Linked DNA regions of Homo sapiens: region 2 is linked to region 1. The links come from fine-mapping of genetic effects on gene expression. A gene starts in region 1. The other region holds a variant in brackets. All regions are shown on one strand. Distances are from middle to middle. Region 1 holds the start of BID (BH3 interacting domain death agonist). Region 2 overlaps BID (BH3 interacting domain death agonist).

Region 1 (5,509 bases):
AGCCTGGGGATTCTGAAAGTTTCCCAGAGCATAGGCAGTGAAAGAGAGAGAAGCTCAGCCCTTCTGGAGGGGACGGGTGGCTCAGAACAGAAGGTGGAAAGGGAGAGAAGCTCAGCCCTTCCAGAGGGGATGGGTGGCTCAGAGCAGAAGGTGGGGATGCAGTTCTGGGGGCGCCATGGCCGAGCACCACAGACCCGGGACTTGCACAACAGAAGCGGGTTTCCTCACAATTCTGAGCCGGAAGGCGGAGATAAATGCGTGGGCACGGCTGGGTTCCCCGGACGCCTCTCTCCCTGGCGCAGAGACGATGTGTTGTTCTCCCCGGGTCCGTTCCTGTGTGGGTGTCCGCGTCCCCATCAGGACACCAGTCAGATAGGAGGAGGGCCATCCAGTGACCTCACTTCACCTTAATCACCTCTGGAAAGTCCCTGTGTCCAAGCACAGTCACGTTCTGAGGTCCTGGGGGTCAGGGCTTCAACTTACGAATTTTGAGAGCATTCAAGTCAGCCCACAACAGTGGACTCTGAAATAATCTTTTAGGAACTGGACTCCTCAAGGACGCTTTAGAAAATGCCGGCCTCGTTCTGTTGCAAAGGGGTAACTGAGGAAGAGGGGCTGAATTTTCACAGGAAGACGAGCCCGGTGGCAGGAAGTGACAGTGAGAAACTGCAGCATAAAGCGGAAGCAAAGGCCGACTGTGACTATGTGGTCGCCAGCTCGCCTTCCCCGTCAAACCTTGCTGGATTTTGTGTTTCATTTTCATTGCCAAAAACATCATTCAGGTCGGGTGCAGTGGTTCATGCCTGTAACCCCAGCACTTTGGGAGGCCGAGGTGGGAGGATTACTTGAGCCCAGGAGTTCAAGACCAGCCTGGGGAACATAGCAAGACCCTGTCCCAAAAAAAAAAAAAAAAAAAAAAAAAAAAGGCCAGGTGTGGTGGCACACGCCTGTAATCCCAGCACTCTGGGAGTCTGAGGCGGGCAGATCACCTGAGGTCAGGAGTTCGAGAACAGCCTGGCCAATATGGTGAAACCCCGTCTCTACTAAAAATACAAAAATTAGCCAGCCAATCATGGTGGTGGGTGCCTGTAATCCCAGCTACTTGGGAGGCTGAGGCTGGAGAATCACTTGAACCCGGGAGGCAGAAGTTGCAGTGAGCGGAAATCACACCATTGCACTCCAGCATGGGTGACACAGCCAGACTCCGTCTAAAAAAAATTTTTAAAAAATTAGCCAGGCGTGGCGGTGCATGCCTGCAGTCCCAGATACTTGGGAGGCTGAGGCAGGAGGATCACTCGAGCCTGGGAGGTCAAGGCTGCAGTGAGCTGTGATCACACCACTGCACTCCAGCATGGGTGACAGAGCTAGATCCTGTTTCAAAAAAAAAAATAAAGTCATCATTCTCTCATGTATGTGTATATTGTTTCATTTGTTAATTAAGGTATAATTTTACATACAGTAAAACTCACCATTCTTCGTGCAGAGTTCTCACAAAAGTGTACAATTGTGTGGCATCCACCACAATCCCTGTATAGAAGAATCCCATCATCCCCGGAATTTCCCTGGACCCTTCCATAGCCCCCCAGTCCGTCACCCCCTGAATTGTTTTCTGGCACCCCGCCCCCCTTTCTTTTTGAAGTGGTTGTTTTGCAGGAAACATCACCCTCTCTCATTTTACAAATACTGCAGACAGATTTTGAAGCCCAAAGCATCATAGAGGCAGCAGATCAGGACAGGGAGGATTGAGGCGGGGAGGCTCTACCCTGACTGTAAGAAGCACTTGAGAGACCTGCAAAAAGCCAACAGGAGAGGCAGAGACTGTGGGGGCCAATTGGTACAGGTCCTGCCCTGCATGACAGGGCCAGTGGCCCCCACAGTGCTGAGGATAAAATCCAACTGCTCATCCAGGCTGCTGGAGCCTCCTGCCTTCAGGCCACCCCACTGGCCTCTTGCCCACTGTGCCCCACTGTCCAAGCTCTCGCCTGCCCTGGGAGGGGCCCCTGCAGCTTCTTGTGCCCAGGTGCACGTCCCTCTCTTTTCCCATCTGGGCGCCTGCTGACATTGTACCATGAATTTGAACACCACCCTGCAGATGACCTGGCCTCAGTCCATGAAGTTTCCCTTTCGTCTTCTGCAGGGCACCGGCCCCTAATGCCATCTGACGGTTTCCCTGCTCACAGGATCTTCCATTTGTTAGCCCCCCAGAGTGCCCAGCCCGAGTGAAGAGCATGCAGGAAACAAGCCCCTGTCCTCGTGGAGGCTACATTCCGAGAGGGGAGGTAGGCAACACACACACAAACGACTCCGTGGTATGTCATGCTGCGATGCTGGCTGTGGAGGAAAATGAAGTGAGGCCTGGTGAAAGCCAGAGGCCATGGGGCTGCCGAGGAGGAACAGGGACAGGGTAGGATTTGCTTAGAGCAGGGCAGGTCGCGTGGGACTCTGCGGGCCACTGAAAGGAACTTGGCTTTTATTCAGAGGATGTTAAAGCGTGAGTGACATCCTCTGACCTTTTATAAAAGAGGCAAGAGTCTAGGGAGCCCGGGTAGAAGTGAGGGCGTCTGGAGGAGCCACAGTGGGCTCAGGGAGTGAGCCCACGCGAGGGCGCAGAGCAACTGGACGCTCCAACAGGGCTGGTGGAAGTGCCGAACGGTGTGCATCACCTTGGAAAGCAGGCAGTTTTTAATACCATGAAGCTCGTCCAGCCCTATGATTCGCATTTCCACTCCTAGGTATCACACTCAAGAGAAGTGAAGACGCCCACAAAGGGCTCTGCAGCAGCACTGCCGGTGAGAGCTGCATCCGGGGATGCATGGACTGGCCTGTCATTCCAGCACCTTGGGAGGCCGAGGTGGGAAGCATCGCTGGAGCCCAGGAGTTCGAGACCAGCCTGAGACCTCCAGAGGTGGAGACCCCCCCCCCACCACCTCCACTAAAAACTGAAAAAGAAATTAGTTGGGTGTGGTGTGCGCCTGTAGTCCCAGCATTATCTATATGTTAAACTGATGTTTTAAATCAGAGTTGATATCCAAATAATTAAAGAATAAACAACAAGCACAGGGACTGGTGAGGGGCTGGGCCAGATTCTCTGCAACCCACATGGCTTCACCCACTTTCCAAACCCCTGGTTCCGTGAGGACCTAGAATGACCACCCCAGACTGTTCCAGAAACAGCCTGGGGATTCTGAATGTTTCCCAGAGAATCATTAGGAATTATCCCAGCGGCGCTGGAGTAAGTGGCCAACTTAAAGTTGGACGACACTGTCTGAAACAGTCGCGTAAGGGGTAAGGGTGGAAAGCCTGGTTCTCACTGCGCTGCCGGCTCCCCGCCCCGCTCCACAGCCCCGCGCCGGCGCGGGCTCCCCGGGTCCCCGCAAGCCGCCGGGGGCGGGCCGGGGCGGGCCGGGGCGGGCCCGGGCGTGGGGGGCCGAAGGAGGAAGCGCGCGGGGCGCCATAAGGAGGAAGCGGGTAGTCGACCGTGTCCGCGCGCCTGGGAGACGCTGCCTCGGCCCGGACGCGCCCGCGCCCCCGCGGCTGGAGGGTGGTGAGTGCACCCGCGCCCCTCCCGGGGTACGCGCCGAGCCCCAGCCCGTGACCCCTGCCTGCCGCCTGCCCCGGCGTGGAGCTCAGGGCCCGCCGCCCGCCCTGGGCCCGACCGCGGTGGGAGCCAGAGGAGGGGAGGCGGGGGGTCAGAGCCCCAGGCCTCAGCAGCGACCTGAGGGCCGGGTCTCTCCCGCCTCCCCTCCGCCCGGGCGCCCTCCTCGGCGCGGCCGGCAGGTCGGTGCTGAGGGTCGGGTCCGCCTCGGAGGCGGGGAAGGCTTTGTTGTGTCCTCTCCACGTGGCCTGGGGATTCAGGGGAGGGGTGCGGGGCGCGGGGAGGGGGAGGGGCCGAGGCCAGCCCCGGAGAGGAGAAAACCCGCGGGCCTGGCCGGGTGCAGGCCACCCTTGCCGGCGGATCGGAATCCCCGCCCACACCGTGGTCTTTCCAGCACCGCAGACACCTGCCGGCTCCTCCCGAGCGGAGCTCAGGGCTGACAAAGCGCGGTCAGAGCGGCCGCTTACTGGGGCTCGCCCGCTCCTTAGAGCACTGGCAATGATGTGCGGATCCTCGCTGCTGCTGCTGGGAAACTGTTGAGTGGCTGAATGACCCCAGGGGACCCTGGGAGAGCTCTGAAGCCCTCAGCCACCAAGTGGCTGGGCTGGCAAGGGTTCATTCATTCATTCAACAAATACGAATGTGCAGCGGTGCTGGGGTCATGATGGCTCGGTGGGCAGCGAGGGGCCGGGCCGGCTGGAGGAGCACAGTGCGGATTCTGTAAGTGGGCTGGGGGCTGGGCCTTCTGCGGCTGGACCGGCCTTCACCTGCAGGCAGGGTTGGGGCAGGTGAGGAGCAGATGGACCCACCCAGAGCTCTTCCACCTTCTCAGGCTTGCACCCCCTTCCTGGAGCCTTATCCACACCCTCAGTCCTCGCTCTCACTGTGGGGGAGCTGCAGAGGATGCGGTTTTTCCACATTCCATCTCCACCCACAGGAGGCTTTGAGATGGGGGGAGCTCTCCTGGGCCTGAATGTGTGCCGTCCTGGGGCCCTGCAGTCCCCTGGGAGTGATGACCGAGACCAGATTCCCTGAGCTGGGGTCTTAAGGGTGTGGGGAGCGCAGAGGGATCCTCTGGCATCAGGAGTTGAGGTAGACAGAGCTCCAGGGAGGCACTGCCGGGAGGACGACCCTGGCCAAGCCTCTGCCTGCGGCCCAGGGTGTGCGTCCCTGCCCCTTCTGCCCCTCTTGCCCAGGGAGGGAAGAGGAAATGCGGGGTCAGCAGTTCGTGGCTGGGGTTTAAAGGCAGGGATCTCCCAGGACGGGCACAGGGAGCATGAGGAAGCAGCTCGTGTCTCTGTTCATGAGATGTGAGAGTGGTGACTGAGACGAGGGGTGCAGAGACCTGCCGTGGCTGGGGCGAGGTGCTGTTAGTGCTTCTGAGGAGGTTGGGCAGGATAGACGGTGGCTGTCAGGTGGTCTCAAGGTTGTGCAGGAGCTTGCCAGAGAGGGAAGCGGGGCATGGCCCCAGGGTGGTATGGGGGATTCTAGGGGGAGGGTGCCTGGGTGGGAAGGGGTGTCGCATGCCCAGCTCAGAGGCCTTGCTTAGGGGTGCTCACAGGCTCGGCTGACGTGAGGATGCTGATCGAAGGAGCTGAGGGTCCCACTCATTTGCAAGGGGGAACTGTCTGCCCAGGAGCCCCAGCAGTGCCCAGGCCCCTGGACTGACAAGGATGGATGAGGGTGATGGAGGCGGATGGACATTTGACACTGGAGCCTGCCTTCCAGGCAGAAGGGCCGTGAGTCATCCTCTCTCCGGTGCCAAGTGGAGGGGCTGAGCAGGTCCTCGACGTGACCGAGGACTGTGCCCGTTTTTTCAGGGGACCCGGAGCGCTGGCTCTGGCTGTCAGCCCATGAGAGACCTCCCTGCAGAGCTGTGGCCTCTGGAAATGCTTCCTGTCGTTGACATCTGGT
Region 2 (5,000 bases), 25 kb after region 1:
CTGGGTGACAGAGCGAGACTCCATCTCAAAAAAAAAAAAAAAAAAAAGACTGGGCGCGGTGGCTCATGCCTGTAATCCCAGCACTTCGGGAGGCCAAGACGGGCGGATCACGAGGTCAGGAGATCCAGACCATCCTGGCTAACACGGTGAAACCCCGTCTGTACGAAAAATACAAAAAGTTAGCTGGGCGTGGTGGCGGGCACCTGTAGTCCCAGCTACTCGGGAGGCTGAGGCAGAAGAATCCCTGGAACCCGGGAAGTGGAGCATGCAGTGAGCCAAGATCATGCCACTGCACTCCAGCCTGGGCGACACAGTGAGACTCCGTCTCAAAAAAAAAAAATGTCCCATTGGGGTACTCATCACAGCCCTGTCTTTAGTGGTGACAATGCTAAGCTATTCACATGCCCAACACTGGGGTTAGTGGTATTCACTGTGTATGTGACACACCAGCATGGGTTAGTGGTATTCCTCCATGATGTGACAACATCGGTATGGGTCAGTGGTATTCTGCTGTGTATGTGACACACCAGTTTGGATTAGTGGGTATTCTGCCATGCATATGACACTGGTATGGGTTAGTGGTATTTGCTATGTATTTGAACACACTGGTATGGGACTTCGGCCCTGAGCACTAGTGACACTTTGAGCTGGATGAGTTGTGGGTTTGAGCTGATGAGCCGTGCCCCCACTGCTACCCGCTACGTGCCAGGAGCACACCCCCCATAAATGTCTCCAGACAGCTCCAGATATTTCCTGGGTATCCAAGTCGCCCTGGCAGAGAAACACTGCATGAGACACGGCGTTAGGGTCTGGTGGGAGACTCACCACAGTGCCAAGGTGGCTGCAGTTTGCTTGTGACATGGGCGTGTATCTGAGTGTGAAGGAAGCTGGTTTTTGTGAGCTGCCTCCCGAGCTCAGAGGTGACAGTGGGCACTTTCCCCACAGAGACCCCTGAAGTTGTTCCTTGGAGAACAAAGTGGTGAGGGGCGGGGATTCCAGACCTTGAGGCAGAAGCTAGGGTCTGGTCCACTGTTCTGTGGACTGGGCAGTGGCCCTGGGAGGTGCCGTGGCCTCTGTGGCCTGTTTCCTGGGGTGGGGTCTGTCTTGCGCTTTGTCTCTTGTGGGTGCAGACTCCCCTTCCTCTGCTGTGGAGCCGGCAGATGGCCCCGGAGCCAGATCCTGGTGCCTCCCTGTCCACATGCAGCTCAGTCATTTGCTCTTGGTCCCTTCCTATGAAATGCACGGCCACACACAGCCAGGGTTTCTCCTGGGCTCCCCAGAGGGAGAGTAGGGTGCAGCCTGCAACAGTGCAGGGTCCCCAGGCCTGTGTGAGCCCCCAGGTGGGGAGGTGGGTGATGCGCATGTCAGTGCTACCTCCTGCCACCTCCTCTCTGCCTGGGCACAGGCTTTCTCCTCTGTTTGCTTTTTATTTCCTATGTATTCAGGAACCATGTGAAATTGCCAATGCTTGGTTTTGTCCTACAAAATGGCCATTTCATTTGGTTCAACCTGATATTGTGTCTACACACACACACGCACACACACACACACACAGGCAAATACTTTTTAAAACAGGATTATTCTATTCACAGTGTTCTGTAGAAATTTGTGTTCAGTCTTTTTTTTTTTTTTTGAGACGGAGTCTCGCTCTGTCGCCCAGGTCGGACTGCGGACTGCAGTGGCGCAATCTCGGCTCACTGCAAGCTCCGCTTCCCGGGTTCACGCCATTCTCCTGCCTCAGCCTCCCGAGTAGCTGGGACTACAGGCGCCCGCCACCGCGCCCGGCTAATTTTTTGTATTTTTAGTAGAGACGGGGTTTCACCTTGTTAGCCAGGATGGTCTCGATCTCCTGACCTCATGATCCACCCGCCTCGGCCTCCCAAAGTGCTGGGATTACAGGCGTGAGCCACCGCGCCCGGCCTCAGTCTTTTTAAGACAGCTTACTGTACTGATGCCGCACAGATCTTTTTTTTTTTTCGAGACAGGGTTTCACTCTCGCCCAGGCTGGAGTGCAGTGGTGCAATCTCCGCTCACTGCAGCCTCCACCTCCTGGGTGTAAGTGATCCTCCTGCTTCAGCCCCCCAAGTAGCTGGGCCCACAGGGCTTGCATCACCACACCTGGCTAATTTTGTATTTTTGTAGAGATGGGGTTTCACCATGTTGGCCAGACTGGTCATTCTTTTTGAGATGGAGTCTCGCTCTGTCGCCCAGGCTGGAGTGCAGTGGCGTGATCTCGGCTTACTGCAACCTCTCCCTCCCAAGTTCATGCCATTCTCCTGCCTCAGCCTCCCGAGTAGCTGGGACTACAGGCGCCCGCCACCACGCCCGGCTAATTTTTTGTATTTTTAGTAGAGACAGGGTTTCACCGC[A/G]TTAGCCAGGGTGGTCTCGATCTCCTGACCTCATGATCCACCCGCCTCGGCCTCCCAAAGTGCTGGGATTACAGGCATGAGCTACTGCGTCCAGCCGGAAGATTTAATTTTTTAATTGTCAAATCCATTCTCTCTCTCTATAAACATTTTACATTTTATGATAATAAAATAATTTGTGAGCCCACGGCCCCGTTTCCCTGATGCCTGAGGTCTTCCTGGGGCGGCATGGGAGGGCTGAATTCAGGTGCGGGGTCGGCCCCAGGGCACTGAGCGCCTGGGTGAGTATCTGGAATGAGGAAAACAAAGCTTGGCTCCCGCCAAGGAGAAAGAAACTCAGGATGCGGGGCTCAGGCCAGGACCTCGGCTCAGCCGCCATTTCTGGAGCACAGGCCAGCTTCGTCGTCCTCCCGAGGGGTCCTGACCAGGGCTTCCCAGGAGCGGCCGCCCACTCTGTGTGTCCCTTTCCAGGTCGCCACTGGGACACTGTGAACCAGGAGTGAGTCGGAGCTGCCGCGCTGCCCAGGCCATGGACTGTGAGGTCAGAGGCCAGATCCCCTGCGGGTGCCTTGTGGGGGGCGGGGTCGAGGGGTAAGGGCCTGCGTGTCCCCCACCACGCATCCCTGAGGGCTGAGGCTGAGCCCGCCTGGCCCTTACCACAGCTCGGCACAGACGAACCCCGCCCAGCCCCTTCACTGAAGCAGGCGGGAGCCGGGAAGTCCTACCTTTCCCTGTCCTGCGCCTTCCTCGCACTCCGCTTGTGGTGCAGCCCCTCCACACCGCGCCTGGGGCTAACTGCAAGGGCGAGGGGGCTTTGGGTTTAAGACCATTTAACAGCCATAGGCTGTGGGTCCCAGCACTTTGGGAGGCCAAGGCAGGAGGATTCCTTGAGGCCAGGAGGTCGAGGCTACAGTGAGCTGTGATTGTGCCACTGCACTGCAGCCCTGTCCAAACAAACACGAAAGAGATTTAAGAAGAAGAAAGGGGGCATTAGATAAGCACTTCATATAATTCTCTCAACTGTAAAAGCAAGACAATACTTACCTTGTCTAACCAATGCCATTGCTATGAGGAGCAAATAAATCAATAAAGGTCAAATAAAAGTACTGTAAACTGTAAGGTGTTTCAAAAATTTTTTAACCCACTGGATTTAAATTTCCCTTCATAGCTGGGCGAGGTGGCTTAGGCACATAATCCCAGTGACTTGGGAGGCAGAAGCGAGAGGATTGCTTGAAGCCAGGAGTTTGATTGAGACAAACCTGGGCAACATAGTAAGACCCCGTCTTTATAAAGATAAAAGCGGTGGAGTTCTGGGAGGGGAGCCCGGAGCCCCCGCCTTCAGCAGGACGCTCCCTGGATGCTTCCTTGTCTCTCCTTCCCTTTAAATGGTCTGGGGAGAGAAAAATCACAGCACACGGGTGCTCTCTCCCACCCGCTGCATCACATCCTCCTCCCCTCCCTCCTGCCGAATTCTGCAGCCTCTGGGCGCCTCACGCTGTCCTGGCAGCCTCTGGGAAGGCATCTGCGAAGTCTAATGCCTTGGCACTTAGTGACTGTGTCGCAGTTCCTGAGCATGGAGAGCACCCGGCACCCAGGAGGTTCTCAAGCTGCCCCTACTGGGGGTCCTTTCCAAAGGTGGGGACGGTGTGGATTTCAGCGTGGTGGCTGGAGGGCTGAGGCAGTGGCTCGAGTTTGATGTTAGTTACATAAACAGAGGAGATTGCAGGAGCTCCCCCGGCCCTGATCCAGGCTTGTTGTCAGTGTCCAAAAGACCACTCTGGGTGCCACTGTCCCTTCCCACCTGCCGCTGCTGTTCCGGCTTCGCGCTCTGGCGGCCTCCGCAGGTAGAACACCACCGTCACCCGCGCAGCGCCCTGACTCGCCGGAGGAGGCGCCTGCCCTCCCGCCCGCCTCTCCCCGGCCCCCTCAGTGAGGGAGGGTGGACGTCGCCACTCCCCTTTCTTGCCTTCGGAGTGAGGAAGCGGAGGCAGCAGTACGGCAGCCCGCCCAGGGCCACAGAGCTGGGGTCACAGCGAAACACTCCGAAACTTTCTTTTCAATTATAGGGTTCAGCCTTTTTTCCCATCATAACTTTAATTCTGTGTAGATACTTCTATTTTTTATTTTTATTTTTTTTTTTGAGATTGAGTCTCTGTGTCGCCCAGGCTGGAGTGCAGTGGCACGATCTCCGCTCACTGCAGGCTCCGCCTCCCGGGTTCAGGCCATTCTCCTGCCTCAGCCTCCCGAGTAGCTGGGACTACAGGCGCCCGCCACCACGCCCGGCTCATTTTTTGTATCTTAGTAAAGACGGGGTTTCACCGTGTTAGCCAGGATGGTCTCGATCTCCTGACCTCGTGATCCGCCCGTCTGGGCCTCCCAAAGTGCTGGGATTACAGGCGTGAGCCACCGTGCCCGGCCTTATTATTATTATTTTTTTGAGACGCAGTTTTGCTCTGTCGCCCAGGCTGGAGTGCAGTGATGTGATCTCCGCTCACTGCCAGCTCCGCCTCCCAAGTTCATGCCATTCTCCTGCCTCAGCCTCTCGAGTAGCTGGGACTACAGGCGCCCACCACCACGCCCGGCTAATTTTTTATATTTTAGTAAAGACGGGGTTTCACCGTGTTAGCCAGGATG

The links. PIP is the estimated chance that this variant, and not a neighbour inherited with it, causes the effect. A credible set is the group of variants that fine-mapping cannot tell apart.
Region 2: its variant is the best candidate, but not a certain one, in a credible set for the expression of BID in prostate (GTEx, PIP 0.69).

Annotation. Positions count from the first base shown.
Region 1 is chr22:17,772,416-17,777,924 of GRCh38, reverse strand. It overlaps BID (BH3 interacting domain death agonist), which reads left to right and starts at 3,456. Exons shown (of 6, transcript NM_001196.4): 1 at 3,456-3,544. It overlaps LINC00528 (long intergenic non-protein coding RNA 528), which reads right to left and starts at 635. Exons shown (of 1, transcript NR_103718.1): 1 at 1-635. RefSeq lists an enhancer at 121-600 and silencers at 3,328-3,427, 3,448-3,497, 3,518-3,587, 3,618-3,947.
Region 2 is chr22:17,748,012-17,753,011 of GRCh38, reverse strand. BID (BH3 interacting domain death agonist) reads left to right here. Exons shown (of 6, transcript NM_001196.4): 2 at 2,838-2,907. The coding sequence starts at 2,896. Among named protein-coding and RNA genes, the nearest start is that of MIR3198-1, 14 kb to the left of the region's middle. RefSeq lists an enhancer at 2,293-2,837. The variant A/G (reference allele first, on the strand shown) is at 2,370.